Regions from separate parts of the Homo sapiens genome. Here region 2 is linked to region 1. The links come from fine-mapping of genetic effects on gene expression. Tissue or cell type: whole blood. Region 1 holds a variant in brackets; the other region holds the start of a gene. All regions are shown on one strand. Distances are between the middles of the regions. Region 1 has its middle 24 kb from the start of SYK. Region 2 holds the start of SYK (spleen associated tyrosine kinase).

Region 1 (16,728 bases):
AGTCATGACAAGTTAAATTAAAGAACATGGTCAACTTAAAAAACTCCTCTATAAACTTTTCTGGATCCTCTGAAAACTAGCCAAATTTTTTTTGTTAAATACAGCCAAATCAGACATAGAAAATAGCACATGTACTCTAAGTGCTCCCCAATTTTCATCAGCTACTTCTTGCAAGGGACACAGGTTTGACTTTTAGGGGCTGATATGGGGTCCACTTCTGGAGGTATTGGTTGGGCTTACTCTTTTGAGCAGTAAGAAGTATAGGCTGGAGCTAGCTGGATAAGGGGGAGAGGTGCCTGATGACCTTGGGATGGAATCCTTTGTTAGAGAACTGGCAGGACCCTCCTCAGAACGGCGGCACTGAGGAGGCTCCAGGGAGGGCATAGGCCTTCTGTGAGAGCAGCTAGGAATGCCACTTGATGCAGGGCAGGCCAGTCCCAAAACTGGGGCTTAGCCTGGGAAAATTGTTGGCTTCACTCAGGAAAGGTTTCAAGAATGAGCTGGTGGTAGAAAAAAATGGCTTTTATTGGGGCAACAGTGTTACAGCTCTGTGACTGCCTCTGCAGAACCAGGATACCTCAAAGGCCGTGTGTTTGAGTAGCAGTTCAGAGGCAGTTCTCCAGTTATATTTATACATACTTTTAATTACATGCAAATTAAGGGGTGGGTTACTCAGAAATTTCTAGAACAGAAGTGGTAACTTCCAGGTGTTGGCACGGCAGTCGTAAACCATCATGGTGCTGGTAGGCATGCCTCTTCCCTGTTTCAACCAGTCTTCAATCTGGCCCGAAGTGAAATCCCACCTGCCACCTCACCTCCAGTGGTGTCTGCAGTGACATTTTGTTCCCTCTTTCAAAATCGTTTTCAATGGGGTCTCTTGTGGGTGGGGCATTAAGCACAAGTGCTCAGCCAACTGCACTGAACCAGAAATTCTGCATCTGTGCTGACCAGAGATGCTTTCTGGAAAACCAAGTGTATAAACCATGGGGACCATGGGACACATGTCACGCTGCTCTCTCACACCTTCATGTATGTCCTTTAGTGTTGCGCAGCAGCAGCCTCTAAGGGAAGCAGCCCTGAGATGTACTTTTAAAACATTTTTACTATTTCATTTGATTTTTTACAACTATGAGTCACAGATGTTTTACTGGGGAAAAAAATATGTAGAAGACATGGCTGGATGTGTGTTATGAGAAAGAGGTCAAGTGCAAATGAGAAAAAGAGGAACTCATGAACCTCTTCTGCCTTTTGGTGAGTGGCCAGTCATTTGAAACTGTGAAGCAGAAGGTAGTGAGGGGCAGTTGTTCCTGTGGGTGCCAAGGGGAAACTTCCTCTTTGCCCTTGGAAGGGTCACTGAAAATCAACTGACAAGAGACAGATTAATTGGAGAAAAGGCACACATATTTATTAATGTGCACAGGAATCTTACAAAGATCTCCAAGAAATGGTAAGGAGGTTGAGACTTTTACACTATCTTTTTAAAGGCTTTTGATATAGGGTCTCACTCTCTTGCCCAGGCTGTAGTGCAATGGCAGGATCATGGTTACTGTAGCCTCAAACTCCTGGGCTCAAGCAGTCCTTCAAGCAATCCCGCCTCAGCCTCCTGAGTAGCTGGAACTGTAGGCCTGTGCCACCATGGCTGGCTAATTCTTTTCACTTTTTGTAGAGATGGGGGTCTCGCTATGTTGCCTTGAACTTGAACTCCTGGCCTCAAGTGATCCTCCTGCCTTGGCCTCCCAAAGTGCTGGGATTATAGGCAGGAGTCACCACATCCAGCCTATACACAGCTTAAGGTTACAGAAAAAATGTGGGCTTGGAGTACGGCCAAAAACTGGTTGCGGTGGTAAATCAGGTTATGATGTCAAGGCAGGTTATGGGAGGAAGAGAAGAGGAGGTCTGGCTTGCAAATGTGGTCTTATTATACAGGTGAAACCTTACAGGTAGCAGTCCTCAGAGAGAATAGATGGTAAATGTTTATTTCAGAAATTTAAGGTGTCAGACTCTGTTAATCTTTTCTTGATCTGGACAAGGGTTAGCCTCAGAGAAAACCTGGCTGCACCATGCTGATTCTGTACAGATGCAAATCTCCCCGCAAAGGACAGCTTTGCAAGGCTACCTCTGTTTGCAGGCCCTCTGAACAGCCACCTCAAAATATGTCAAAGAAGGATATTTGGAGGTGAAATATTTTGGTTTCCTCCATTACAAATCTGGATCTGACACAAGATAGTACCATTTACTCAATGTATAGCTTGGGCCAAGTTGTTTGAATTCTCTGTCCCTCAGTTTATCTGTAAAATGAAGAAAATAATAGCACATACTTCACAGAGTTTTATGACAATCTAATTAATATAAGCAAAGCACTTCTAATAATGCCTGGCACATTGTAAATAACCAACCTGTTATTAGAAGACAGAATCCATGGATTTACTGTTAGTATAAACAATGTGCTCTCTGCTACACAGAAAAGCAGTCTCCAAGGGGAGCATCCATTTTCCATTTGGAATTCAAGCAGAAGCAGCGTCCCTGAGCCAGGAAGGTGGGCCACAAAGAAGAGAAGGTAGATCCATGTGTGCAGGGTGGGGCCATGGCTGTAGCAGCAATGCCCATTCCTGGCCACAAGCACAGATGAAGGTGCTACCAGGATCCAGAACCAGGCACTGAAGAGGGAAGTGGGCAAGCCATGTAAGTGATCACAAAGCACTTAGGTCACGAGAAGAGGCGACCCAGACCCCACTCCCCTAACCATCATGACAAGAAGGAAGAACCAGCTCCCTGCCAAGGGGAGCTTTTTAATTAGTATGTTCATTTAACTGATGCCAGCTCTCATTTCAGAATGTAAATTCAGTCTTTCCCAAAAAATCCTTGGATATCTTCAGGAAGTCCCAAGTTACTGTTAAATGTGGACACTTTCATCCCTTCTACCTTGGCTTTTTCAGAAGCAGACGCAGATTTGAGATCCCAGTAGAAAGAATTTATTTGGCAGGTGCAAGGTACCCCAGCAAGGGAGCAGGGACATGGGACCAGGAGGGGAAGGTGAGACCAGGAAGGGAAGGCAGCGCATTTGTGAGCCGCTGGAGCACAAGGAAACTGCAGAAAAATCTGTGCTTCTTCCTGAAGGATGAGGGAGCTGGGACATTCAGACACCGGCCTGTCAGTCATTGGTGGAGGGCTGCCAGGGCTATTAATTCCCTAGCACTCAAACCACCCTGGACATGGGCAGAGAGGCCTCCTGAGGCTTAGGAGAATGTCCTCAGGCAAAGAAGAAGTTGCAACTCAGATAGAACCCCCCAGGCCAGAGGGGTGTGAGTGAGTCACCAACAGTTCCTGTTACATTTACATTTAGGGAGAAGATTCTGGAACCCAACATAGATAGATCAAGGTAAAGAGCATCCCTCCCAGAAGGTTGCCAGGATGCTCTAGAGCTCATGAGATTTGCTCTTGCTGACACTGAGAAGCAGGAAGGAGTAGGAATGGAGAGTGCAGACTTTGAAATCCGCCCATCCGGGGCTGCTTCCCTGCTCTGCTCTCATAGCTCTGTGATCTTGCGCAAGTTCCGTAGCACCTCTGGGTGAGTTTTCCCATCTGTAAAACGGGGATGATGATAATACCTGTAGGGCTGTTGTGAGGACATAACACAGTCATACAGATAAAGCACTTAAAAAGCACCCAGCCCTTAAGCGCTCAAACATTTGTATTCTACATCTTTTGTCAATTGCCTTTGTTTAGAAATGCTCTGGCATGTTGGGTGCTCAAAAGATGTTGACAGTAATTTATTCACTACGACACACCAAGAATTAATGAAATATTGCTAAGAAAATAAAAACTAGTGTTCATCACATCCTGCGATGTGATGTCTCTTCAGAGAACCAGGCGAGGGTATGTGGCCAATGAACAGCCAATGAAGTCACTGTCAGAGTGGCTTTGTCACCCAAGGAGCCCCTACTAGTTTATTAGGGCAATCTGACTTTCAGATCTGAATCCTAGCAGTGTATGGATATAAAAGATACCAAGTCTAAAAATAATAATTATAAAGATCTTAAAAACAACCTGTGACACTCACAAATCCGTTTGACTGGTAATTTTTGAGACATTGGACCATATCTAATACTTGGCAACAGGGCACCACTGTGCTATCATGAAGCATCATCATCAGTTCCAGCGAAGGTGAAATGGTTTCTATTATAGGCATGTTAATAACTTCTATTAATAGAGGCGAGGAAAAGCACAAAACCTTTATCTCTTCTTTTCATGCATGGAATAAAATGAGAACTCTATATTACAAAAAAAAAAAAAAAGATTCCCTTTCTAATGCCATCCAAGGAACAATATTCTAAGTGTGCCTACTGAGACAGGATTTCATCTGAATCTATTGCTATGTATTCTCCAACATCCCCTCCAAGAAGATTAGACCATTTCCAGCTGAGACTGGTTTTTGCTAGCAGTGGTTAGATTTTCACAGTTCCCAGCCCAGGGGAAGGGAGGGTGCCTCCCTGAGACTACATTGCCCTCTGCTGCCCATCCAAGGCCAAGTCAGGTAGGGAAGGCCTCTGGGGAATTACATTTTAAAAAAATAAAGTTTATGAAAATTATACATGAGATTTGCATAAAAGGTGAAGTGAGGTTGTTACAGTTGCAAAGTCTCTCACTCTCCAGGGGCAAAATCAGGAGGTCAGAAGTGCACTTGGAACTATCGGGATGGTGAGGGTCACATAGGAAGTGTGGGTTTGGAGTCAGGCTCACGTTGTGCTGGTACTAGCTGTGCCATCTTGGGCAAGTTGTCAACCCCTCTAAGCATCAGTTTCTCATATGTGAGATGCGATAATCCCTGGGGCCACTTATCCAAAGATTAAAGAATAAAATGCACATCAAGTTGTAAGCAGAGTATGTGACACTTCGTGTTCTAACAAATGTTGGTTATTATTGCTCCAACTTCCTCCTTGCAGATGCAGAAACTGAAAACTCTCAGGACTTGACATAGGGACCCAAAGTCACATGTCTGCCTAGGGATGAGGAGGGGAGTCATCCCAGGCCAAACCTCCCACTGTCCCCAAGGCATCCTGGGCTTTCATGAGCATCTTTAGCTCCATCCCCCAGTCACAACCCATCTCAGTGGACATGTGTCCTGGACACTGCGCCTGGCCTACCCCACTGCCCCACACAAGGAAACATTCCCTGTGGGCTGGGCCTAACGCTTTGCTCACATTTGCCCCCTACAGAGCAGTTCACCTGGAGGGTAGCACAGGTGCTATTCCCAAAAGGCCATGTGAAGCTAGTGCAACTGTCAAAGTGAGGAGGAAATTCCATAGGCCATGAGCAGCTGGGCTGGGGCGGTAGGCTCGAGGGCAGGGGCTATTAATGACTGAACCATAGAAAAGTCCATTTGTCCATTTTTCTATTCATTCACTCCCAAGTATTTTTTGAGCAGCACATGCTAAGCAAGTCTTCTCAGCACTCACATCGAAGAAAAGAGGTGGCCCTGGTCTGCAACACCCTTGGGCACCTGGTAGGAGGCCTGGTTCCCCTTTTATGTGGTTTGTCACACTCTCAGGACTGTGACCAAAACCAAATGAGGGCATTCCCATTAGATCCTGCTGAGGGAGCAGTGCCTCCAGTAAACAAGCTTGAGCAGGTGTGGTTCATATTAACTGAGAACCTCATGCCACCAAACAACACATGTGCTAGCAAGGGTTGCCCACACGTTGCCTCAACACCAGCGCTTGTCCTTCCTGTGTCCTTCCTTCTGGACAGCCACACAGCACTAGGGCCATTGTGCAAGAATCATTCAAATCGCCACCACTAATGGGTTTGGATTGAAATTCCAGAAATAATCCCAGCTTCACTACTTACTACCGGTATTCCTTCAATGGAGTGATTAATCTTTCCTGTCTCCAAATTCTCATTGGATCATGCGAGTGACAATACTTATTTTGCAAAATTTTTGTAAGAATTAAAGACAGAAAATATAAAGCCCCTGGTTGCCTACACAAAGTGGACACTGAGGAAATAGGAGCCATTGTTACTATTTCACACCTAAACGAAATACACGTATGGACAGAGTATATGTATAAATTCACATACACATATTGATGCATATAAAAATATGCATGCCAATTTCTGTTGCTGTATATAAAATATATAGTATTATACTGGAAAAGCGCAAAGAACATACACTGTAGAGATTATAAAAACTAAATATGTTTATCTTGCCAAATACAACGTTTGAAAAGATACTGCTTTGGGTCATGAAGACAGTTGCTTTCTTATCTCTTGAGTTAAGGAAAATATATATTTTATGGAAAGCTATGGAGGTAGCTACTAACTAAAAGCAAGACTTAAACTTCTTTTGAGGAATAAAATCAGTATCCTCATTTTTTTAATATTCTGAGGAAATAAAAGAGAAATCACATGTATGAATACATAGTTTAGGTCAACTTACATTTCTGCAATGTAGGATGCTGTAACCATGCTGTAGAAATATACTCCTACTAAAACCCTCAGCAGTCATCCCTTCCCCACCCCGAAAAAGAAGGTGTTTTTCAGTAGCATCTGCTACTTTCAGATGGTCAAGTGATGGCAGAAGTGATTTACAGTAACCACGTGCGTAAGGATATAGGGGCAGCCTAGCCTATGATCTCAGGAGCCAGACTGTCTGGCTCTGCCACTTCCTAGATGTCTGATCTTGAGAACCTTTTCTGCCAACCTGTGCCTCAGTTTCCTCTGCCAGAAAATGTAAAGAATAGCACCCTGACCTTATTTCAGATTTAAATGAGTTGATGCTTAGAGAACAGAACATAATTAGCACTGTTTGTGAAATAATGCTTTTTGAATTTATTGGCATTTTAAAAGTCCTTCAACTGAAAAGAGACCTCAAAGACTCTTGGAGAAATTGCACTTAACAATAAGGAAATAGGATACTTTATCAACCCAATAAGGAGCATCTATAGAAAACTTATAGCCTGTGTCATACTGATGGTGACATGAACACTTTTCCCTAAGATGAAAAAGGAGGTAGAAATGTTCACATCCACCAGTTCTACTCAAGGTTGTACTGGAAGTTCTAGGCATTGCTATAAGGCAAGAAAAATAAATAATTAAATAAAAAATATAAAGCTGGAAAAGGAAAATAAAACTTCCTCCATTTGCAGATGACAGGACTGTTTACATAAAAAAAACTAAGGAATTTACAAAGAAACCACTATAACACAAAAGTGAACTTACTAAGGTCTCAGGATACGAAGTAAATATATAAATTTCAATTGCATACTTATATAATATCAATAAAAAATGGTAAATGAAACTTACAAAAAAACCACATACCATTTTATAATAATATAAAATACTTAGAAATAAGTAAAGATGTGTAAGACCTGTACACTGAAAACTATAAAACATCACTAAAAGAAATTAAAAAGGACCTAAATTAATGGAGAGTTATACTATGTTCATAGATGGAAAGATTCACTATTGTTAAAGTATCATTTCTCCCCAAATTTACCTATATATTCAATACAATACCAACCAAAATCCAAAGAGGGCTTGTTTGTAGAAATTAACAAGCTAATTTTTTAATATTTATATGGAAATGAAAAAGACCTACAATAACCCAAACAGTCTTGAAAAATAAAATAGGGAAATAAATACCTAATTTCAAGTCTTAATGTAGTATGGTAATCAAGACAGTATGGTATTGGTGTAAGGATGAATAGATAATTAAACAGAATAGAAATTCCAGAAGTAGACCCACATGTATACAATTACAAGATTTTTGACAAAAGCATCAAAGCAATGAAAAAGGGAAAAGGAAAGTCCTTTCAAGAAATAGTGCTGAAACAACTGGATATTTGTGTAGAAAATTAATAACTCACTTCCTATTTTACACTATACAAAAAATTAATTCAAGATGCATCAGAGTTCTATTACACATAAAAGCAATAAAATTTCTCAAAATAATAAGAGAATATCTAATGTGGTAGGCAAAGTGTTCTCAGGCTGGTAAAAAACAGCACTCATCTAAAAATAAGAAAATTGTTCCATTTCATTTAATCAAAATTAACTTCTGCTTATCAAAAGACAATGATAAGAAAATGAAAAAGGTAGCAGTAGATTAGGAGAAAATATTTGCCAAATATGTATCAGACAAATGACTTCAATCCAGAATATATCTTTTATAGTTCTACAAATTAATAATCAAAAGACAATCTAATTTTTAATGGGCAAAATATTGGACAAACACTTCATAAAAAATAACAGAAAAGAGTTCATAAGCACATAAAAATATGTTCAACATCATTGGTCATCAGGACAACTAAGACCACAGTGAGATATCACCATCCCCTCACTAAAAGATAGTCAGATAACATCAAGTGTCGGCAAGGATGTGAAGCAACTGGAGCTCTCATACACTGCACAAATCTTGTACACAAAATGATACAACCCCTTTGGAACCTTCTTGGCATTTTCCCAGACAGCCATCTGCTCTATAACTCAGGAATTCTACTCTTAGATCCTAGGAACTTATCCAAGAGGAATTAAAATGTAAGTCCACAAAAAAGACTCACACAAGAATATTCATAGCAGCCCTATTCAAAACAGAAAAAAAAAAAACTAGACATAGCTCAAATATCCATCAACAGAACAACAAACAAATAAATATATATCTCTGTATAATTACAGTTGAAAAAAACAAACGAACAGTTTTTCTCCTACCATACTCAGTACAGAACACTTCTGGTCATCAAAGGACAGCGGGGTGTCCTTCCACTCAGTT[T/C]TAATCCGATACTATCTACCTGGAGATAGCATCAGATCACAGAGGTTGAGGGCTTAGTGTCACAAAACTCTTCCCCGTTTAGATGCCAGACCCAAGCCCCAGGTTGTGACCTGCACTTCTAGCCAGTTATAAATCAGGATTTTCAGCCGGGTGCGGTGGCTCATGCCTGTAATCCCAGCACTTTGGGAGACAGAGGCGGGCAGATCACGAGGTCAGGAGATGGAGACCATCCTGGCCAACATGGTGAAACCCTGTCTCTACTAAATTACACACACACACAAAATTAGCTGGGCGTGGTGGCGCATGCCTGTAGTCCCAGCTACTCGGGAAGCTGAGGCAGGAGAATCACTTGAACCCAGGAGGCGGAGGTAGCAGTGAACCGAGATCGCGCCACTGCACTCCAGCCTGGTGACAGAGGGAGACTCTGTCTCAAAAATAAATAAATAAATAAATAAATAAATAAATATATAAGGATTCCCCCTCCTCAGGTTAGATAATTTGCTAGGACAGCTGACAGAACTCAGGGGAACACTTTACTCACATTTACCCATTTATTATGGAGGATACTAGAAAGGATACAGATAAATACTCAGATGGAAGAGATGCATAGTGCAATGTATGTGAGAAGAAGCGCAGAGCTTCCATTGCCACTCCTGGGGCACCACTCTCCATTGTTCACCAATTCAGAAACTCCAAGTCTTGTCTTTTTGGGTTTTTGTGAATGTTTCATTGTAATGTTTCATTACATACGCATAATTGATTAATGTATGGGCCCTTGGTGATCAAGTCAGACTTCAGCCCCACTCTTCTCCCCAGAAGTCCACTTGGGGCTGAGAGTTCCAAGCTGCTAATCACATGATTGGTTCCCATGGCAACCAGCCCCATCCTGAGGCTATCTAGGAGCTCCCCATCCCCCATCAGTCATCTCCTTAGCATACAAAAAGGCATTTACCATTTTGGAGATTCCAAGGCAGATAGGAGCTGTACGCCAGAAAACAGGGACAAGACCAAATACAGTGTATTTCTTATTATAAGTCACAGTTATCACAATCAACAAAAAATAAATAAACAGCATGGCTGAATCTTAAAACCATGAAGTTGAGCAGATGAAACTGGACACACAAGAGTACATAAATGTGAATGACAGAGCCTTGGGAGACGTAAAAAAAAACTACATAAATGTAAGGATCTCATTTAAATAAAGTTCAAGAACAGAGAAAACGAATCTCAGATGACAGAAATCAATTTTTTTTTTTTTTTGAGACAGAGTCTCACTGTCAGCCAGGCTGGAGTGCAATGGCGTGGTCTCAGTTCACTGCAACCTCTGCCTTCCAGGTTCAAGCTATTCTCCCACCTCAGCCTCCCAAGTAGCTGGGACTACAGGCATGTGCCACCACACTTGGTTAAGTTTTTTTGTTTTTTTTTTTTTGTATTTTTTAATAGGCTCTAGGGGATTGGGGACTGGCTGCAAGGGGACAATTTCTTAGATGATGGAAATTCTCTATGTCTTGATCACAGTGATGGTTACCAATCCAAACAAAAAGAGTCAAACTCTGTAAAATATTTAATATTTTATTATGAGCTAAATATGGGCAACCAATGGTCCATGACACAGCCCTCAGGACATCCTGAGGACTTGTGCCCAAGGTGGTTTTATACATTTAGGGAAACCTAAGACATTAATCAATACATTTAAGATGTACATTGGTTCAGTCTCAAAAGCAGGGGCTTCCAGGTCATAAGCAGATTCAAAGATTTTCTGATTGGCAAATGGTTGGGGGAGTTAATATCTTAAGACCTGGAATCAATAGAAAGAAATCTGGGTTATGATAAGGGTTTGTGAATGCCAAGGTTTATCATGCAGATGAAGCCTCCAGGTAGCAGGGCTTCAAAGAGAATAGATTGTAAGTGTTTCTTCTCAGACTTAAAGAGTCTACCAGTCTTCAGGTCTCTGTGTTGATGTTAATTCTGGTCAGCTGTGAGACATGTTCAACACCCTCTTCCCACCAAACCCCTACTTCCATCATGGATTGAACTAGTTTTTCAGGTTAACTTTAGAATGCCCTTGGCTGAGAGAAGGGGTCCTGATTGGGGGCTTAGAATTTTGTATTTGTTATACATTCTCCCTCTTCTGGCCAAGATTTGCCAGAAGCAACATCAATGGACACCAAACTTTCACTGTGTCCCATAGCATTGCCAAAGTGGCATGGCTGTCTGCTCTGGGTCCCTCCTGTCCCTCAGTGGGACGCCTATGGCCAAGGGACTTAGAGCCAAAAGATGCATAGCCAATGTAAACGTTCTAGGCCAGACAGGGATGGATGTAGACAGGTGTTCGCTAGTCCTTAAAACATTTTTTCAGTAATGCAAGAGCCTACAAACAAAAAGCCAAAGACAAGGTTACAAATTGACTTATCTACCTCTCAATTCTATATGTTGAGCTACTGTGATCTTGGTTTTAGTTACAGACTTATTGCAATTAGCTATACAAAACATAAGCACTATTAAAGCCTTTTAAGCTAAGGAATTCAGAGACTTTTGCTGTGCCTCAATGATTTTTGCAGTATTTTACTAATTTGTCCCAAGACGGCTGATAATAAACGTTAAATATATATATATAGGCCGGGCGTGGTGGCTCATGCCTGTAATCCCAGCACTTTTGGAGGCCGAGGTGGGTGGATCACGAGGTCAGGAGTTCAAGACCAGCCTGACCAACATGGTGAAACCCCATCTCTACTAAAAATACAAAAATTAGCCAGGCATGGTGGTGAGTGCCTGTAATCCCAGCTACTTGGGAGGAGAATTGCTTGAACCTGGGAGGCAGAGGTTGCAGTGAGCCAACATTGTACCATTGCAGTCCAGCCTGGGTGACAGAGCTAGACTCTGTCTCAAAAATAAATAAATAAATAAATAAATAAATAAAATATATATATATGCATAAATCTCATAACTGGGAGTATTATACCCAGCAAGCTTTGTCACAAAGTGTCTTTATATCCTCTCAGTAATTTTCTTTTAATTCTATGGGAAGCAGGAAATTCTTTACGGTTAGGATGGACAAAAGGGTGCCACATACATAATAACACAGGAGGCACAGTCCCTTATTTTACCAGCTGTTTAGGTATCTGTGATTTGGAGGCTCTAAACTAATTCTATCCCACAAAACTGGCCCTTGCAATCTCACACACTGACGTCTTACGTGATAGTCCCTGGGCCTAGAGGGAGGGTGCTTGTATAGTTTTAGCAGCAGGGCATTTGCAATGAAAGACAGATGGGGCCCGGTGGGATTCCAAATGAGGGAGATTCACAGGCTTTGTCAAATTATCTCTAGTCTTATGAATATATGATTCTAATTTTCTCAGAAGTAAAACTACATGAGATAAATAACATTAGTAAACTTGCTAATCAAAACAGAATCTGTGTGTCAGAACAGAAAAAGGAAACTATTTCATTAGGGCAACAACTAAAAACATGAAGAAAATTATAAGCTGGTACTTTTTAGAGGATTATTGTAGGAAGAGATGTAATTCGATCTGCACTCTAAAACAAGTCGGGGCTGGAATTCAGTAACGGGTGTTACAGTTTTCCCTTGAAACAATTTTTCTCTGATTCTCTAGCCCTCCTTTTCTACTAAAGAGAAATTATAGTAAGACCAATTTGTGTGCAGAATAAGTTTTTGGCTTATTACACTTGGCTTGATTATTCACATAAAGCGCAGCAGGAATTACTTGGTTTGAAATGCTTGTTCTTTGGTGCCATAAAGAAATAGCACTTGAACATAAATTTAATTTATTTAGTAAGGCCACTTTTACTTCCTGCAGAAAGGGTACACTCGCCAGCAGTTTTGCCATGAGAGTACACTGAACAAAGGAGACAGGGTCATTTATAACCTGACGTGTCCACCCTACTGTTGTGTCCAGTTTCCATTGGCTGGAACAAGAGCTCGCATTCTGTATTTGTCCTGATTGGCTAGCAACTTAGAACTTTTTAAAAGAGGCAAAGGTAGAGGGGAACAAAGGAAGGAGGAAGTAACTAGTGGAAGGCTGAGAAAGGTAAAAACACTTTTAAATAAGGAAGAGGAACAGGCTATGACCTAATGCTTGCTTGGACCAGTATAAGCATGCCAGGGCAAATATTTAGGCTAAATTGTGGGAGCTAGGAACATAAATTGTATATTGATTTTTTTATTATGGCTAGCAGATATTTAAGAATGTTAGCACAGGTCTTTGAATAAATTTTGCTTCTAAGAGAAGTTACTATTTATTCCTAATTAGACGGGGAGGAAAGTCTTTGAAGAGGAACCTCTACTTTACTTTTTACAGTTGGCCATAGAGACTCTTTTCAAGTTGACTTTGCTGGAGCTTCACCTAATAATGTTATTCTAGTCAAAGCCTTGGTATAATAACCAGCACCTGCAATTGTGTCCTGTTTCAAAAGAAAGGGCTCTTATTAAACATGCCTTTACATATCACATATTTATCAGTTTACTGTTGATTGCCTATCTGCCTGCTAAACTGTTTGCTTCTGCAAAATAGAGACCTTGCCTGTCCTGCACCCCCAGAGCTTAGGCCTGCATAATGCTCAGTAGACATTGCATATATAATAGATGTTGGAAGAAGATGCAGTTGGCAGAGAGATGTAAGGACAATTTCTCATTGTTTTGTCAACATAAAGTATGTATGTTTTATATTGGAAAGCTGAGATCTTGAAAAAACTGTATACAAAAATTTTTGCAGGTATGTCTCTGTTTCTCCATATTGAGCTTCCACTTTTGATGATTGTAGAAATGTGCTGTAGAATGGATTAGACCATGTTTTTTTGTTTGTTTGTTTGTTTGTTTTGAGATGGAGTTTCGCTCTTGTTGCCCAGGCTAGCGTGCAATGGCACAGTCTCCACTCACCACAACCTCCACCTCCTGGGTTCAAGCGATTCTCCTGCCTCAGCCTCCCGAGTAGCTGGGATTACAGATATGTACCACCACACCCGGCTAATTTTGTATTTTTAGTAGAGACGAGATTTCTCTATGTTGGTCAGGCTGGTCTCAAACTCTTGACCTCAGGTGATCTGCCCACCTCAGCCTCCCAAAGTGCTGAGATTACAGGTGTGAGCCACTGCACCCAGCCAATTACACAGTGTTTTAAAGACAAATAAATATGTGAATTTTGTATTAAAGTTCAGCTGCTCTTCACCTAAGAAATATTCATCAAGTAAGAAGTATCTGGCTTGGGTAATTGTTAACTAAAGAATCATGAGATTCATAAATTTGGAGAGGAGAGTGTTATTTCTTATAAAGGCTTGCATCCAGCAGGCTGCCCACTGTGCAGGCTGGGAAGCATAGCTTCTGGTAGAAACCAAAAGCAGGCACTTTGAAAGAGGGAAAGGTGAGACAGAAATTTGGGCTGAATGGGCTAGCTAAGTATACATATTCAATAGTTATAGGAAGGGCTGAGAATAATTATGAAGGGGGTGCACACATTCATAGCAAGCAAACATCCATGTTACATTCATCTCATATTCATTTGGGGTGAAGACTTACATTTAATTGCATTATAATTTCACTCTGTATGTCACAAAGTGAAAGCAAGGACACAGGGGCATGTTGTCTGCAGCCTGTGAATACCTGCCAGAGCCAGTCTACGGCCAGTGGTCTTTTATCAGGAAGGAATGCCAGTCAGTTGTTGTGTAAATCAGAGGTGAAGCGAGTCTTTCAAAAGAGCTGGTTTCTGTCTGTTAGAGAAGGAAGATTGATGGCAGTAAGGGAGGTGGCATAACAAGGCGTGTCCCACCTCCTGTGTGCCTGGCATGGCTGGCAACTCAGTTTTTAAGGCTTCTCTGAGGCTCCTTGGACAAAGAGGGAGTCCATTCAGTTAGTTAGGGGACTTAGAATTTTATTTTTATTTCTCAGAATTTATCTAGGAAAGTTAGATGGTAGATCGTAAAGGTGCAGAATGTCATGTTAATTTGGCTTGCTATCGAGATGTATCAGAGTACAACAATAACAGTGTTATCAGCTGTATACTAAAAACATCCTTGGTCAGCAATATCTCAGACATTTTCCAAGGACAAAAGTATTAAATTTCATAAAGAAATAGCACGCTTTCAAATAACACTCCCAGGGCTTGACACGTGTATAAGAAAATCTAATTCCCAGGCACATTTCCCAGTAAGGCCATGAAAATAGCCGCGGAATGTGAAATATACACGTGACTGCCATCCTAATTTGGATGTTTCTTTAACACCCACAAGAAGGATGATAACTTCTCTCCCCCTAGCTCCTATTACGCCACTCCAATATGCACCCTGGACCTCAAAGATCATTTCTCTTTCCTGCATCCAGATAAAAGGTCACGATTCCTGGTGCCTGGTGTGCTCTGGACCACAGTGTATTTCCCAAGGTAGTCACGACCCCTTTAATGGACCACAGTGTATTTCCCAAGGTAGTCACGACCCCTTTAATGGCAGACTCTGCCTGCAGACTGCTGGTGCTGAGAGGGTGCTGGTGCTTGTGCACATAGCAAGAAGTGAAATAGAAATGACTGAGTTTGTTTTGTGCAGCATCACCACTGTTCTCGTAAAGAATGAACTATATAAGCACATAAGAACTACAAAGTGCAAATTGTGTAATTTTGGTGATTCCGCATACGAGTCCAATGTTTTTATGTTTACATTTAAAACTGGCATAACAAATTCTATGTAAAGATAAATGGTAAAGTCCGTATTAATAATTTATAATTTCTATTTTTATTTAGTTAGAATGACATTCAATAGCAAATTTAAAAAAACACTGACATCTTGAAAGAGACAACAGAAGAGAAAAAAGGTTTTATATTTTAATACCTTTAATGGCCATTTTATTTTGCTTTTTGAACCAGGATCCATTTTTTATTTTGTACTGGGCCCCACAGATTATGAAGTTGGCCCTAGGCACAACCTCACACCACTACCTGTTCTGGTTAGCTATTACTAGGTAAGCTATGTAACATATTACCCCAAAACCTGGTGCCTTGAAACAACAATCATTCTTAAATATCTCACGATTTTGTGACTCAGAAGCTCAGGCGGAGCTCAGCTAGGTGATTCTTCTGCTTCACATGGCATTAACTAGGCACTCAGCTGGCTTTCAGGCTGTTAACACAGCCTTGGCAAAGATTGGGGAAGACTGGGCTCAGCTTTGCACCTCCAACTCTGCCCCACCCTTTGGCCTCTCCAGCAATCTTTGGAGTTCTTACATGGCAGTTCAGGGTTCCAAGAGACCAAGACCTAAGCTGTCCATCCTCTAAAAGGCTAGGCTTAAAATAAAAATGCCGTCACTTCTGCCACACTCTCTTGGTCAAAGCAGTAATAGGGCAGCCCAGATGCAAGAGGGAGAGTCTATTACACATCAGGAAACCAAGGCCCAGAGAGGCTCAGTAACTTGCACAAAGTCACACAGCTAGTAGGTTATAAACTTGGGAGTTGAACCAAATCTGGCTCCACGGTCAGTGCTGTAGGCCACTTTGCCATGCTGGTAATAGTAGTCTCCAAACACCTAAACTGTGTGACAATAAAGGACAAAGTCTTAACTTCAGAAAGCAGCTTTAACCCACACACACAAAGAGAGAGAGAGAGATGTCTTAGGAAGTAAAACGTGTGAAAGAACTTTATAAATATTGGAGTTCTCCAAAACTGTAACTTAGAGATTCTAAAACCTCTTCTATCCTAGAGACAGGACCCCGGAGCAAAATTGCTGGATGTACCTCTGCCCCCAGGGATGGAGCAAACCAGTCCCAGAGCAAAGCTGACATCTGGAGGGGACTTGTGCACCAGTGATGATGCACACACTGAGATGCTGAGTGCTATCCATCCCACTCTCAAAATAGAAGCGTGAATCCCCCAACATGGTGCCAATCAATGATTGGTGGGTTTGAGTTATTCTCAAAACTGAATCAGAGAATCTGTTGTCTATGAATCCATACACATACGTA
Region 2 (13,974 bases), 23 kb after region 1:
TGGCTATAATCAAAACGACAGACAATAACAAGAGTTGACAAAGATGTGGAAAAATTGGAACCCTCCTGTTTTGCTGGTGGAAACCTGAAAATGGTGAAGCCACTTTTGAAAACAGTTATCAGTTCCTCAAAATGACAAACATAGATTTACTATATCACTCAGCAATTCCACTCCTAGTTATATATTCAAGAAAAAAGGAAAATATACACCCACACAAAAACTTGTATAGGAATGGTTGATGCAAAATTATTTATAGTAGCCAAAGAGCAGAAACCGATGAGTGGATAAATAAAATGTGGCCTATCCATACAATGGAATATTATTTGGTACTAAAAATGTAAAACACTGATGTATGCTATAACATGAATGAAAACATTATGCTAAGTAAATAAGCCAGTCACAAAGAGCACATATTACATCATGCAATTTATATGAAATGTCCAGAATAGGCATGTCTACAGAGACAAAAAGTAGATGGGAGGTTTTCCTAGGGCCTTGGATGGGGAGGAGGGAAAGGATTGTGTGGGATGGGAAGCATGAGAAGTGATATGGGTATGGGGTTTTGTTTTGTGGTTTAAAAAAGTTCTTCCAGGTGCAGTGGCTCACATCTGTAATCCTAGCACTTAAGGATGCAGTGGCAGGAGTATAGTGTGAGCCCAGGAGTTTGAGACCTGCCTGGGCAATATAAAGAGACCCCATTCTTCACAAAAAAGAAAAAAAGTGCTTAAAAAAGTTCTAATATTGATAGTGATGATGGTTGTACAACTTTGTGAATACACTTAAAACAATTTAATTGTATACTTTCAACAAGTAAACTGGATGTTATGTGAATTATATCTTTTGAAAACTTAAAAATGGAACCGCACTTTGAAAAATATAAAAAAGAAAAAGAATGAAAAGATCTTGGTATGAGAAAAACCATCTAATTTTCACTACAGTGAAAAATAACAGCTGAACTACCTTCTAATTATATAATTATATTTTAAAAGAGTACTCTGTTAAGCAAATGATTAGCTACCCATTGAAATAGATGAAAGGGAGGAGTTATTTTTGAGCATAAGTTTTTTCCATCCTTTTGAATCTCCAGTGGCTTGGGTCATGTCTGGCAAGTAAAGGACCCTAATTCAATTATTGAATTGTTTGCTCCCTGGAATTTCACAAAAAAATAAGGAATCAGGTACACAGAGGAAACTTGACTTGCTCAGAGCTGCACACCTACAAAAAGTAGCAGAGCTGAGACTACTATGGCCCGTGCTTCCTGACCCGTGGCCAGTGCACCTACCGCTGGGTTTAAACACATGTGATCACACTTCAGACACTATCTTTGGTCTTTAAGTAACTTTTCTGTTTTGTTTGTTCAAAAGATTACTAACAAAAGAAAAATGAGGAAGTTTACCATTTGTAGGTGAAAAGTCACTTTTATATCTGGTTGAATTGGTTAGGGAATACCAGCAGAAGGAAGTTGTTCCTCTGGCTACATCCTGTGTCATTTCAGCAACTGGATGAATGTGATCAGAAGGTGAAAATCACTGAGAGAAGCCACTCACCTCCATCATGCTGGTCTATCAAAATTAACTTCCCTTCATAGGACACAATAGGGTTGTTACTTTTTTTTTAAAGGTATACCTACATATGAAAATAATTAATTTTATCTAAATTTAATGTAATATGCATAAAAATACACCTGATGCTGTCCTAACTATGCAATATTCTCCTTTGTGTGTCAATAAAAGTGTATTATTTCAATACATGGAGTTGGTTATTATTTTACTTGCAACCTAAAGCACCTTAACAGATATATCATGTGTAACTTGTGTATTTTTTTAATTTAGAAGAGACAAAAATGAGGACCTTACATTCTAAATATTAAAATGTGCAATCACATGAGTCCAGGAGTTTGAGACCAGCCTGGCAACGTAGTAAAACCCCATCTCTACTAAAAATACAAAAAGTCCCAGCTACTCAGGAGGCTGAGGTGGGGGAATCACTTGAGCTGGGGAAGCCAAGGCTGCAGTGAGCTGTGATTGCGCCACTGCACTCCAGTCTGAGTGACAGAGTAAGACCCTGTCACAAAAAAAAAAAAGTACAGCGTATATTCTATAGTAAAAAACATGTGGGCCATTACATTCTGAAAGAACATAGTGAAACATTTACAGAATATCAAGGCCTCACCATCTAGAAGAAAAGAATCCTTACTTTCCTCATCTTTCTACCTCAAGAAAAAAGGGAAGCGGGAAGAAACAAAAGTGCTAAAGTTACAAGTGGTAACCAAACAAGAAAAGGAGAACCGCTTAACAAAATGCACTTTGAAAAGCGCTGGCTCATATAAAAACCAGAAGTTTGAGAGTATCACAATGAGGCCACACTCCAACCTCCCAGAAACCATATATTGTGCGTCTACAAAATCCTGAACAATTCTCACTCAGATCTTGAGAGAAGAAGGGGCCATTGTTTATCCTTAGTTTTTCTCATTTTTGACTGTGGAGTAGTGAAAATGGCTGCAGTGGAGATTAGTGCAAAAGGAAATAGCAGCAATGTGGCATGATTTTGTCAGAGTGTGAGGACTCCAACGACCCACATTAATTGGGGGAATGAGCTGAAACTCACAGATGCCCCCAACCTCGCTGGACAGAGTAAGCTCAGCCTTCTCCCTCCCTCAATGAAGTGCGAAGCCTGCATGTTCCTCACAGTCTCACATTGGAAGGAGGGGCCCAGTTTGTGCAACACAACTCCAGCTAAGCCCACCCCCACCATTCCCACGCTCAAAGGTTATAGAAAATCAAGCTCAAAAGGAATATTAAGCCGTCATATGTAATCCAGAAAAGGGGTAAGAAAAGGCTCTGACATGAGGATTTAGGAGCTGCCACACACAAAGGGGCAGAGCAAAGTGAAAGTCTGAAGAAAGCTGCCAAGTATGGACAAGATGAAATCAATGAACTAGCAGCTATGCAAACCTTAAAAGAAAATAACATGCACAAATTAAAAATAAAATCCAGTCTGAAAGAATTTTTAAGTGCACAGGCTACAAAATTTGATAAGAGCCTGCATTCAATTTTTTAAAAAACTCAAGAACCGATTGAATAACCAAGAGAAAATAACTAAAAAGAGTGAGATAGAGAGAACCAGAGACAAAGAAATAATTTGAGGACCAATAAACCTACCTACAGGTAAATTAGAAATAACAAGAAATAAAGCAGACCCAGCTAAACATTTAGTTCCCGAAAAAAAAGAAAGGGAGAGAGAGAAAATCACTGTGAACCAGGAAGAAAAAACAAAGTAGATTACTACAATCAGAGAAAAGATAATAGACTTAGATGATAAAAAGTTAATTAATATCCTTGAAGAAAAGCACTTAACAAATAAAAAGGTATTTAAAATCACACAAGAAAAAATTCTTTGAATGAAGATCTAAATCTGCGCATTACAATGGTGGATACACAGCATTATATATTTGTTAAACACCATACAATATACAACACCAAGAGGGAACCTCAATGCAAACTTTGGGCTTTGGGTGATTATGATGTGCATTAAAGAGTGCATTGTGTTTAAGAAATAAAAGATGGCCGGGTGTGGTGACTCCTGCCATCACTTTGGGAGGCCAAGGCAGGATGATCACCTGAGGTCAGGAGTTCGAGACCAGCCTGGCCAACATGGTGAAACTCTGTCTCTACTAAAAATACAAAAAATTAGCTGGGCTTGGTGGCGGGCGCCTGTAATCCCAGCTGCTCAGGAGGCTGAGGCAGGAGAATTGCTTGAACCTGGGAGGCAGAGGTTGCAGTGAGCCAAGATCACGCCATTGCACACCAGCCTGGGCAACAAGAGTGAAACTCCATCTCAAAAAAAGAAAAAGAAATAAAAGATGCTGGTTGATCTGTATCAGTATATATCCTTGTCAAGTTTCTTAATATCTCAGTTAAAGAAAGTTTCCTCCAGCAGCCTGGAAAGAAGAGCAAGTCACCTAAAAGAGGACAAAGGACTGGCTGTTCTCACATTTCTCCAAAACAACATTCAATGCCAAAGGGGCAAGGGAGGAAAATCAACCGAGTCTAGGCCAAAGGGAAGTAGGATGGAGACACAATGTGCCCACCTTGATGTCACTGCAATACAACAGCAACAGAATAACATCCTGAAAGTGGAGAGCATTGATAGATGCAGTATGTGGGATCACATCTTCACAGAGTCCATCCAGCTCATCAACAAAGAAAGTAGGAATGAGATATGGTGGTAGAAAGGTCTGGAGGTGCATAAGGTATCCTTTTAAATGGAGAACTAAGAAGAGACCACTGAGGGTTTATGGTTACAGAAATCAAAAATTTTAAACTTAACTATGTAAAACTCATATAACTAGGGAAACGTGAGAGGTGAGCTGAAGTGAAGTGGAGTGAGAGAGGTAATTGGTTCATGTATCATAGCAGAGTTACTGATACTGTCTGAAATTAAAGCTCATGGTTTAGAAGAAATGACGAAAACTGCTTATTATTGTCACTTTTCTTTTCCTTTAATCAAAGTGGGGTCATTTCAGAAATGATACATTTGTGGCAAAGAATCATTTCTATAAAATCAGCAATTCTTTAGATCCCATTTCAGAATTTTTTATTCTGTTAAATTTAAGTAGAATTAAATATCATATTTAACATGGATAAAATGTATAATAAATGTATTATATTTAAAATGATGCCCATTTTTATATCTATTGCCATGTGTACATATAGAAAGAGATAATTTTGTAAGGGTCACCTAACGGTAATGATGATTATGTCTGAAATTTGGGATGTTTCTATTTCCTTTGTGCTTTTATTCTTTTAAGGGATTGCCTATTAGGAATACTTGCCACTGTTACCAAAAAAACTATTTTTTTAAATTAAACACTATTTTTTAGAGCAGTTTTAGGTTCACAGTAAAAATGAGAGGCAGGTACCGAGGTTTCCCATATACCCACTGACCTCACACATGCACAGCCTTTCCCATTATCAACAGCCCCATCAGACTGGTACATTTGTTACAATTGATGAACCTACTTTGACACATCATAATCACCCAAAGCCTGAAGTTTACACTGATGTTCCCTCTTGGTGTTGTATATTGTATGGTGTTTAACAAATGTATAGTGCTGTGTATCCACCATTGTAATATCATACAGCATACTTTCACAGCCCTAAAAAATCTCTGTTCTCCTTCTATTCATCCTGCCCTCCCCACCAGCCCATGGCAGCCACTGATCTTTTTACTATCCAGATAGTTTGGCTCTTTCCAGAATATCACCTGTTGAAATTATACAGTATGTAGCCTTTTCAGAGGGCTTCTTTCACTTGGTAATATGCATTTAGATTTCATCCATTTCTTTTCATAACTTGCTAGTGCATTTCATTTTAGTGTGGAACAATATTCCATTACACTGATGTACAAGAGTTTATATATCCATTCACTTACTGAATGACATCTTGTTTGTGTCCAAGTTTTGGCAATAAACTTAGTAAATAAAGCCAGCGTAAACATTTGTGTGCAGATTTTTGTGTGAACATAAGGTTTGAACTCCTTTGGGTAAATACCAAGAAGCACAATTACTGGGTACTACTTTAGGTAAATACCAACTACTTTGGGTAAATACCAAGAAGGACAATCCTCTTATAATTACTCATGTTGTAAGAGGATGTTTAGTTTCATAAGAAACTGCCAAACTGTCTTCCACAGTGGCTGTACCATCTTGCATTCACAACAGCAATGAATGAGTATTTCTATTGCTTCACATCCTCACTAGTGTTCACTGCGGTCAGTGTTCCGAATTTGGGCCATACTGATATCTTACTGTCTTCATTTGCATTTCCCTGATGATACATAATGTGAACCATCTTTTAGGCTAGGCATGGTGGCTCACGCCTGTAATCCCAGCATTTTGGGAGGCCAAGGCAGGCAGATCACGAGGTCAGGAGATCGAGACCATCCTGGCGAACACGGTGAAACCCCGTCTCTACTAAAAATACAAAAAATTAGCCGGGCATGGTGGCGGGCGCCTATAGTCCCAGCTACTCGGGAGGCTGAGGCAGGAGAATGGCGTGAGCCCAGGAGGCAGAGCTTGCGGTGAGCTGAGATGATCGGGCCACTGTACTCCAGCCTGGGCAACAGAGTGAGGCTCCGTCTCAAAAAAAAAAAAAATTACTACATGATACTAAGTAATGCGGAAGGTGACTCAAAGGGGGAAAGGAACACAGCAGTGTAAAGGAAGGAGGTTGTAGATGGATCTAGAATTTCCCCCTCATTTCCATCAGGTGAAAGCCTGAGAAAACTGCAATCTTTGTGCAGGCTGGGTTTGCTTTGTACACACTGGTCCCCTAGTGTTCATCTCCAATAATGCTGACAACTCTGAAAACCATCTGTAGACATTCTGCAGGCTCCATCTCAGGAACAATGGCTATTTTTTCGGGTAGTTGAAGCAAAATTAAGTCCAATGATAAGCAAATATAACCATTATCAAAATCTTCCATTTATGTTTGTTAAAGCAACCTAAGTATGATCTGAGAAGGACTCTGTATTCTATATTTGAGTCCTTGTGGATGAACTGTAACCTAGCTTAATAGGCAGACAAGATTGAAAACCTAATTTAGGAGTATGTGCCTTTAACAATAGCTGAGTCTTGGCCAATCCCAGTGGCCATACTTCAACCATTCATACACTGCTGAGTGTTCAAACTGTGTTCAAAGAAGGCAAAAGCCAACCTGTAACCAATCCAGTTGTTTCTCTGCCTTACCTCCAATTTCTGTATGTCACTTCCCTTTTTTTGTCTATAAATATGTTCTGACCATGAGGCATCCCTGGAGTCTCTGAATCCGCTGTGATTCTGGAAGCTGCCCCATTCGCAAATCATTCATTACTCAATTAAACTGCTTTAAATTTAATTCTGCTGAAGTTTTCTTTTAACAGGTTTAGAAAAAATAATGGCAAAAATGAATGAAAATCCAATAACCCTGGAAGCAGAAAAGGCTGGGGGCTCCAATAAGTGTAAATAGTCCCATCCCTATATTTTCTCCATGGCAATTACAATCCAGCACATTATATATATATTTTTTTGCTTCTCGCATTTTGGCTTAGGGTAAAGCTTTTTAAAACAGGCACTGCCAACCAGTGTTATCAAGAAGGTCTGGATGCCGTTTTGTGGGAACATTTTAAAGAGGAATGTCCAAAAGGAAAAGGGGGATGGGTTGGGAGAAGGGTATCAGGCGGGTATCTCAAAACCATTCTTAGGGCTATAGGTTTAATTTATTTGGTTGTGGACGTCAGAGCCGTCATGGTAAGAAGGAAGCAAAGCCTTTTGTAATAATTAAAGCCTTCAGAAGCAGCGTGCCCCATTGCCCACTAGTGCGCCGTGAAGTCTGGTGTTCACCTACAGGGTCCCTCTCAGCACTGCCCAGGCCTCCCGAGTGCTCCAGCACAGTAGCTTGGAGCTTGTTGGTTTGGTGACCAAGATACACTCCAGGGAATATGCCATGCAGTGGAGTCTCTTCCCCGGCACTGCATAGCAAAAGGAAAGGGCCGCTGGGTGTCTGTGGGTCCTGGGCAGTCACAGAAGCCACCGCGCTGGCGGGGAGGAGGGGGACCGATGCGGTCCATGTCCCGGGCAGCCCCACCTTCTCTGCCTGCGAAGGGCCCTTGTCCGGCGGGAGGAGAGAGGCGCGCCCCACCCGGGCTCCTCTACACCTGCCGCCGCCTGGGCCGATTCCGCGGGCCTCGCCCGGCGCTTCAGCCGATTCCCGCCCAGCTCCGGGCTCATGGGCGCGGTCAGCAGGGCGGGCCAGGGCGGCGGGGCGCGACACTGGGAGGAAGTGCGGGCCGCCTGCCCGGGCGCGTTAAGGAAGTTGCCCAAAATGAGGAAGAGCCGCGGGCCCGGCGGCTGAGGCCACCCCGGCGGCGGCTGGAGAGCGAGGAGGAGCGGGTGGCCCCGCGCTGCGCCCGCCCTCGCCTCACCTGGCGCAGGTAGGTGTGGCCGCGTCCCCTACCCGGCCGGGACTTTCTGGTAAGGAGAGGAGGTTACGGGGAACGACGCGCTGCTTTCATGCCCTTTCTTGTTCTACCTTCATCGGCCGAGGTAAAAGTGCTGAAACCATGTGAATAAAATACAGGTGGGTTCCGCCAGCTTCGCTCCTGAACCTACCCGCGCTCGGGATCCAGAAGCTGCGCCGGGAGAGAGGGGCTCAGGCCTGGGCGGAGGGGACGGAGGTCAGACCGTGCGGAAAGTGACCCGGGCACCCCAGGGCGCCCAGGCCCCCAGGGAGCGCGGAAAGTGCGGTCGCGGCCCGGCCCTCGGGAGACGCGGGATTGGGATCAGGCACAGCGCGAGGAAGTCGATCTTGGAGCTAGAACATTTTCCTTTGGCCATTTACACGAATCCACTGGAAAATGCCGCAGTGTTTATCAAAGTTACTCAAAGTAGAAATGTCCAGACGTCTTATGAGCTTAGACAAATCTTTTACTACAAAAAGAAACAGCAGTTGCATTCAAACAACAACCCTTCTGAACCACTACTAAAATTTAGCATAATTACTCTTGTGGATACATTTTCATTGTCAAGTAATTTACTTAGCCAATGAACTTGGAGAGCAAGAAAGTTTTATGTAGTAAAATGTAAATTTGAGTTAAGAGTTAAGGGTGTTTCTTTTTGTCTGTTTGTCTGTTTTTGGCAATGTGGCTCCAAAACCTTAAGCCCACCTAAAAACTATATAAATGCAATCCATTCTTTTGTTGGAATGTTCAAGGACTAGAAAGACAATTGGAGAAGTGAGAGTTTGAATCTTTTTTTACGTTGGAAACAGTGTTGCAAAATATTTTTTGAGTTTTGCCTGACTTAGCAAAGATTCAGTCGAACTCAAGTAGAGTTCAAAGCATTGCAGCGTGTAGTAAAAAAAAAAAAGAGTTGAAGATGTTGTGCCATATCTGATTCTTGGTATTAAAAATAAAAAAAGGAACCATTTAATCCCTAAGAGTTCCTGGAAGAAATGGAATTGATTCTACCATCTGACTTCTTTGTCTTAGTAGGGACAAATTCATTGCCTTCACACAGGCAGCATTTTAATTAAATGCAACTAAATACATTGATGTCCTCCTTCTCCCCAGTGAAAGTCCGAGCAGTGCATAGATAGAATTATATTTTCTCAAAAAGGCTTAAATACATGTAAATTATTAAGTGTTTTAAGTGAGAAATCTTTGTCAGTTGAAATTATTTTATCAAATCATTTTTGTTCTGAACGGCACTTTTGTTTTAACGTATTTAGAAAACTCTTGCATTAAAACAGAAATTGATTTGTATTATCCCCTGTATTTGAAGTGCACTTTAAAGTGTATTTGAATGAGAGATTATAATCAAATTACTTGATTTGTGTCTTATCCTCTTACTCTTCTACCTTGGATTTGAAAAGGTTGGATTTGAACACTAGGAAAAAAGAGATTTTTCTACTGAGGGATTGTGGGAAGATTTTTTTTTAAGCCTCTGTATTTGAAGTGAAATATAAAATAGGATTTTATAATAGTCTTAATAACTAGAAAGTTTTAAGCTAGGATAAAAATGGGGTGTATACTTTAGGTCTTTATCTTTCCTGAGAGATGAAATTGGTAGAAACGTTATTTTATTGCTAGATTTCACTTTAGAAATGAATCACCCTGATCTTTGTTAGGCCCCTATTTAATATTCTAAATGCAGGTCTAATCTCTCTGCTTTTTTTTAATGGAAGACTTCTTAGTAGAACTTCACTTATTTAGCACATTGTTTGCCCATGGTTATAATCCAATATGCTTGTGCCAAGACGTATTTTGGAATTCAAGCTTTTTCAGAATTTGGAATTAAAATTTAGAATCTAAATTTCAGAACTGAGAAAGACATTGCTCAGAATTTAGAAAGGTAAACATACATGTTGACCCTGCTGGTTACATGCCATTCCAATATAGTCTGGAGAGAATCCTGTAATTCCATGCATTAATATTTCTGTACTTTTACATTTAAGAACATGAATATTCTCACTAAGTGGAATAAATAAAGACTATAAAGAGCTGTGTGTCTGTTTAGAGCAGGTGTTATCACTACGAGAGCTTCTCTAAGACTTACCAAAAAAAAAAAAAGTGTTGTTTTTCAGAGCTTTTTAGAGCTGCAGCTGAGGGACTGAGTCTGTATTAGACTCCACTGAACTACGGTTTGCTTTTAAAAGGAAAGTGCATTTATGTTGTTCAATACTTCACACTTTCCAGTAATTAGAAGGGCAGTTCCTCTCTCTTTAGGGAGTCTTAAATAGCAAGATTTTACTGAATTTTCAATCATACCGATCAAAATAGAGGTACTTCAAGTAAGAGTGGATGTCTCATCTTTGTAATATAATTTCAAACAGCATAGTTTCTGACAGTCTACCATTTTAGAGAAACAGAGCAGAAGTTACTTACAGGAGGGGTTACTGTCACCCTTTACAGCTGCAGTCTGTCCATGGAAGAAATATTATTTCCTGTTAACTTTGCAACCAGCTGGGTTTGTGTCAGTTATCTAAGCCTAAGTGATGGCTAATTTTTACTTTCTCAACTTTCCCTGTATAGATTTTTTTCCAGCTACCCCCTGACTTTTCTACTCTTGCTTTGCTGGTTTTAACATTTTCCACTACTTCTGGATTGGTTTAGCTATAACTGGGTGGAGAAAACAACAACAACAACAGGAATTTAGGCCTTTGGGGAAGAATTTGTTTTGTTTTAGAAGTCTACACATTGAGCATTACTTTTTCTTCTAAAGCAACTAAAATCAGAAGGCAGAGTCCTAATGAGAGATTATGATCAAATTGCCTCATTTGTGTCTTATCACCTTCCTCTTCTACTTAGATTTGAACAGGTTGGATTTGAATACTAGGAAAAAAGGGTTTTCTACTGAGGGATTGTGGGAAGATGTTTTAAGAACTAGTCTGATTGGATTTTAGGAAAGTTCATTCATTTTGATATGATGTTATCAGGGACATTTTCTATTTGCTTATAATTTTATCTGACCAATATTAGCTTGTATCAATTTGAGGTTTTTTTTTCCTTTATGAATCAATTGTGCAAGGTTTGCCCTACATCTCTTAAAAGGTGGTTAAACTGGAATCTTAAAGACAGTTGAATTTAGCCAAGACCAAAGATATGCAAAGAAAGAATATTTTGTTTATGTTACAGTACATTTAATAAATCCAAATGGCTCCCTTGATTCTTTTCTTTCTGGGACACCACGTATTGATTTCTGGCAGCTGGCCAAAGGCAGATGGTGGTGGAGCAAGCGAGGACAGTTAAGAATGTTGATGATTACTGGATTACTGAGGAGTACTGTGAGCTTTCTGGTCCTCTGCTCAGAGGTGTCTAGCTCTGAAACTGGGATCCTGGCTCTGAGCTGGAGAGGCGCTTCCAGTTACTGCTGTCCTGGAGCGCTGGAAGGGAGCATAAGTGTGAGGAGACAGTGGGCTTTTAGCCTGGGATGCAGATGAGAGATGTCTTGACCTGAGTGAAAACCTTGCAGGCAAGCTGCAGGTCTACCGAGCAGGGTGAGGGAGGCTCTCGACCTGGATACTGTGAACTAGGGAGAGAAAGTAAATTCAACAGAAGGAGGGCCCAGGGCAGAGATTTAGGAATATCCACAGTTTAAATATTGCTTTACTTAAGTATACTCTGCCTGACTATAAGTAGCATTTGAATGTTCAACATATGACCTTTCATTTCTCCCCTCCATTGGTTTGTCTTAACTGATAAATCTTTATTTTCCCATGGTCAACCTGGTAGTTTATTAATATTACATCTATCAGTTCCTGTTGAGTTGACATGAAAATGTTTTGGTGTGACCTAAGTTAATTTCTCTTTTTGTTTAATTTTAATTTGTAATGAGTTCCTCTTTTCATTCTGCCCATCCTTTGGTACTGCTTTGAGTTATGTCCTCTAGAATTCTCACTATTTCCTTATGATTGGCATATTTTCAAAGTTTTTTGGTGTACTAATTTTAAACAGTGTTTGTTGACACTGAGAATTCAGGACTTTGGAGTTTTAGACCACCATCACCTTCTACTCCTTCTCACACCATCCCAGGATAATTATTCTCTCATTTGAGATTAAGAAGTTATTTGGTTTATTTTATTATGGTTATATAAATATAGTTTACTGCTAAAGCAAGGTATATCATTCCATTTTCTATCTCGTACCCCTTTTTGCTCTTCCTGGGGTAAACCCTTGCTTTGTTTTTGTGTTTTCTTAGTTTGCACTGTGCCTATTATCATTTCCTTCCCAACTTTCTGACATAAAGATGAAAGCCCTATTGACACAATTTTCTACAGTGTCAGATATACCAAGTAATCTCACGGTTCCATTTTTCTTTCTTTTTTTCTAGAACCCTCCATCTTCTTCTTGTCTAACAGTTGCTCTTCAGTCTTGCTATACATACAGTAATACCTGAAGAATGTTTGGAGGATATTTGGTGTGGGACTTTTCTTTTTTTTTTTTCTTTTTCTTTTTTGTAGAGATGGGCTCTCACTATATTGCCCAGGCTAGTCTCAAACTCCTGGGCCCAAGCAATCCTCTTGCCTCAGCCTCCCAAAGTGCTGGGATTATAGGCATGATCCACTGTGCCCAGCCCTATGGGGAATATTTGTTGACTAAATATGTTTTATGTAAATTGCTTATCATACTCTTTGTTGTAACATCTGTGGCATTAATATGCCTCTTGTTAACACTCACCTACATTTTACCTGTTGTAAATCCACTGTCATAATTATTGAAAATATTTCTCCAGAGCTTTTTAATTCTATGGTTATTTATTTATTGTAGTATAGAACTTTTATGATTTCTTCCATCAGGGTGCATTCTGAATCATGCTTAGTGAGAGATGGTTTTTAACTCCACTTTAACAGTTAGCATCTATGTTTTACATCAGTGTCAATGTCACTTTTGTATTATATACGACACCAACATTTTATTATCTGAGTGATGAGAATGTTTATTTTTGTGGAAATGGAGATCTCATGAGACTTTAAGCAGATTGCTGGCCTTCTCCTCGATTTCCTTGATTGATTCCTGAAGTGGAACTGCAGTGCTAAGTGGAATTCCCTGGGAAGCTTGCTCAAGTAAGTAAGCATGAGAAATGCTGAATGAAATAAAGTGCAGCAAGCAGGGATAAATATCATGGGCATCTTCAGAGCCTTTGTGCAGGTAACATGCACAGAGATTCTCTGAGAGAGTCAGTCTCAGCCAGTGGTCCTACACTTCCATGACCCTGCAGTGCGTTTGTTCTTAGAGTGGCTTTCAGGGCTGGCTCTGCCACAGCCTCTTTGGGAAACCATGCATGACCTCTTGCTGCTCCTTACCAAGCTCCTTAGGCTTTGCTTGGTAGAGGCAGAATGTTGTGGTTGTTTTCATCTTAAATGCTAACAATATATGAATTATGTGGTGGATACACTGCCTCAAAGTGACATTTATCGAATATTTTTGTAGCTACGGGTTGAGAGTAAGGGTCTGAGGCCCCACTGGGTTCAAGTCCCCCTTCTTTATTTGTAAGCTCTTCTTTTGTAAATGGAGCAGTCACAGGGGGCTTCACTCTGATACCTAATGGAGACCGTGCCTGCAGTGCTCGGTACCTGGTATGTGGTTAAAACTGACATAACTGTCAGAGCCTCTCCCAGGCGGGCTGACTCTGGGAATCTGCCCTGCAGTCTTGGAGGGAAGGCACGTCCAGATAGGTTTGATGAGCAACTACAATTGCCAAAGTTAGTTTCTCTGACCTCCAAGATGGGAGAACTTTCTAATATTTTCTTTTAGGAAAGTTGTCCATTGCATAACTGATACACGAGTACATATCCTTTAGTACAGGATTCAGATACAGCGAGCAACAGAAAAGCCCTTCTTAACCTCCACCCTCAGTCCCAGCCCTGCCCCCAGTCCCACTGTTGGGGAGCAGTTGGAGCTCTAACCTCTCTTCTTTCGTCCTGTGCATTCATGTGT

The links. PIP is the estimated chance that this variant, and not a neighbour inherited with it, causes the effect.
Region 2: it holds the start of SYK, and the variant in region 1 is fine-mapped to the expression of SYK in whole blood (TOPMed, PIP above 0.99).

What each region holds. Positions count from the first base shown.
Region 1 is chr9:90,769,296-90,786,023 of GRCh38, forward strand. No RefSeq gene overlaps it. Among named protein-coding and RNA genes, the nearest start is that of SYK, 24 kb to the right of the region's middle. RefSeq lists an enhancer at 5,412-5,471. The variant T/C (reference allele first, on the strand shown) is at 8,768.
Region 2 is chr9:90,793,923-90,807,896 of GRCh38, forward strand. It overlaps SYK (spleen associated tyrosine kinase), which reads left to right and starts at 7,897. Exons shown (of 14, transcript NM_003177.7): 1 at 7,897-7,971. RefSeq lists an enhancer at 1,012-1,181 and silencers at 7,646-7,855, 7,876-8,035.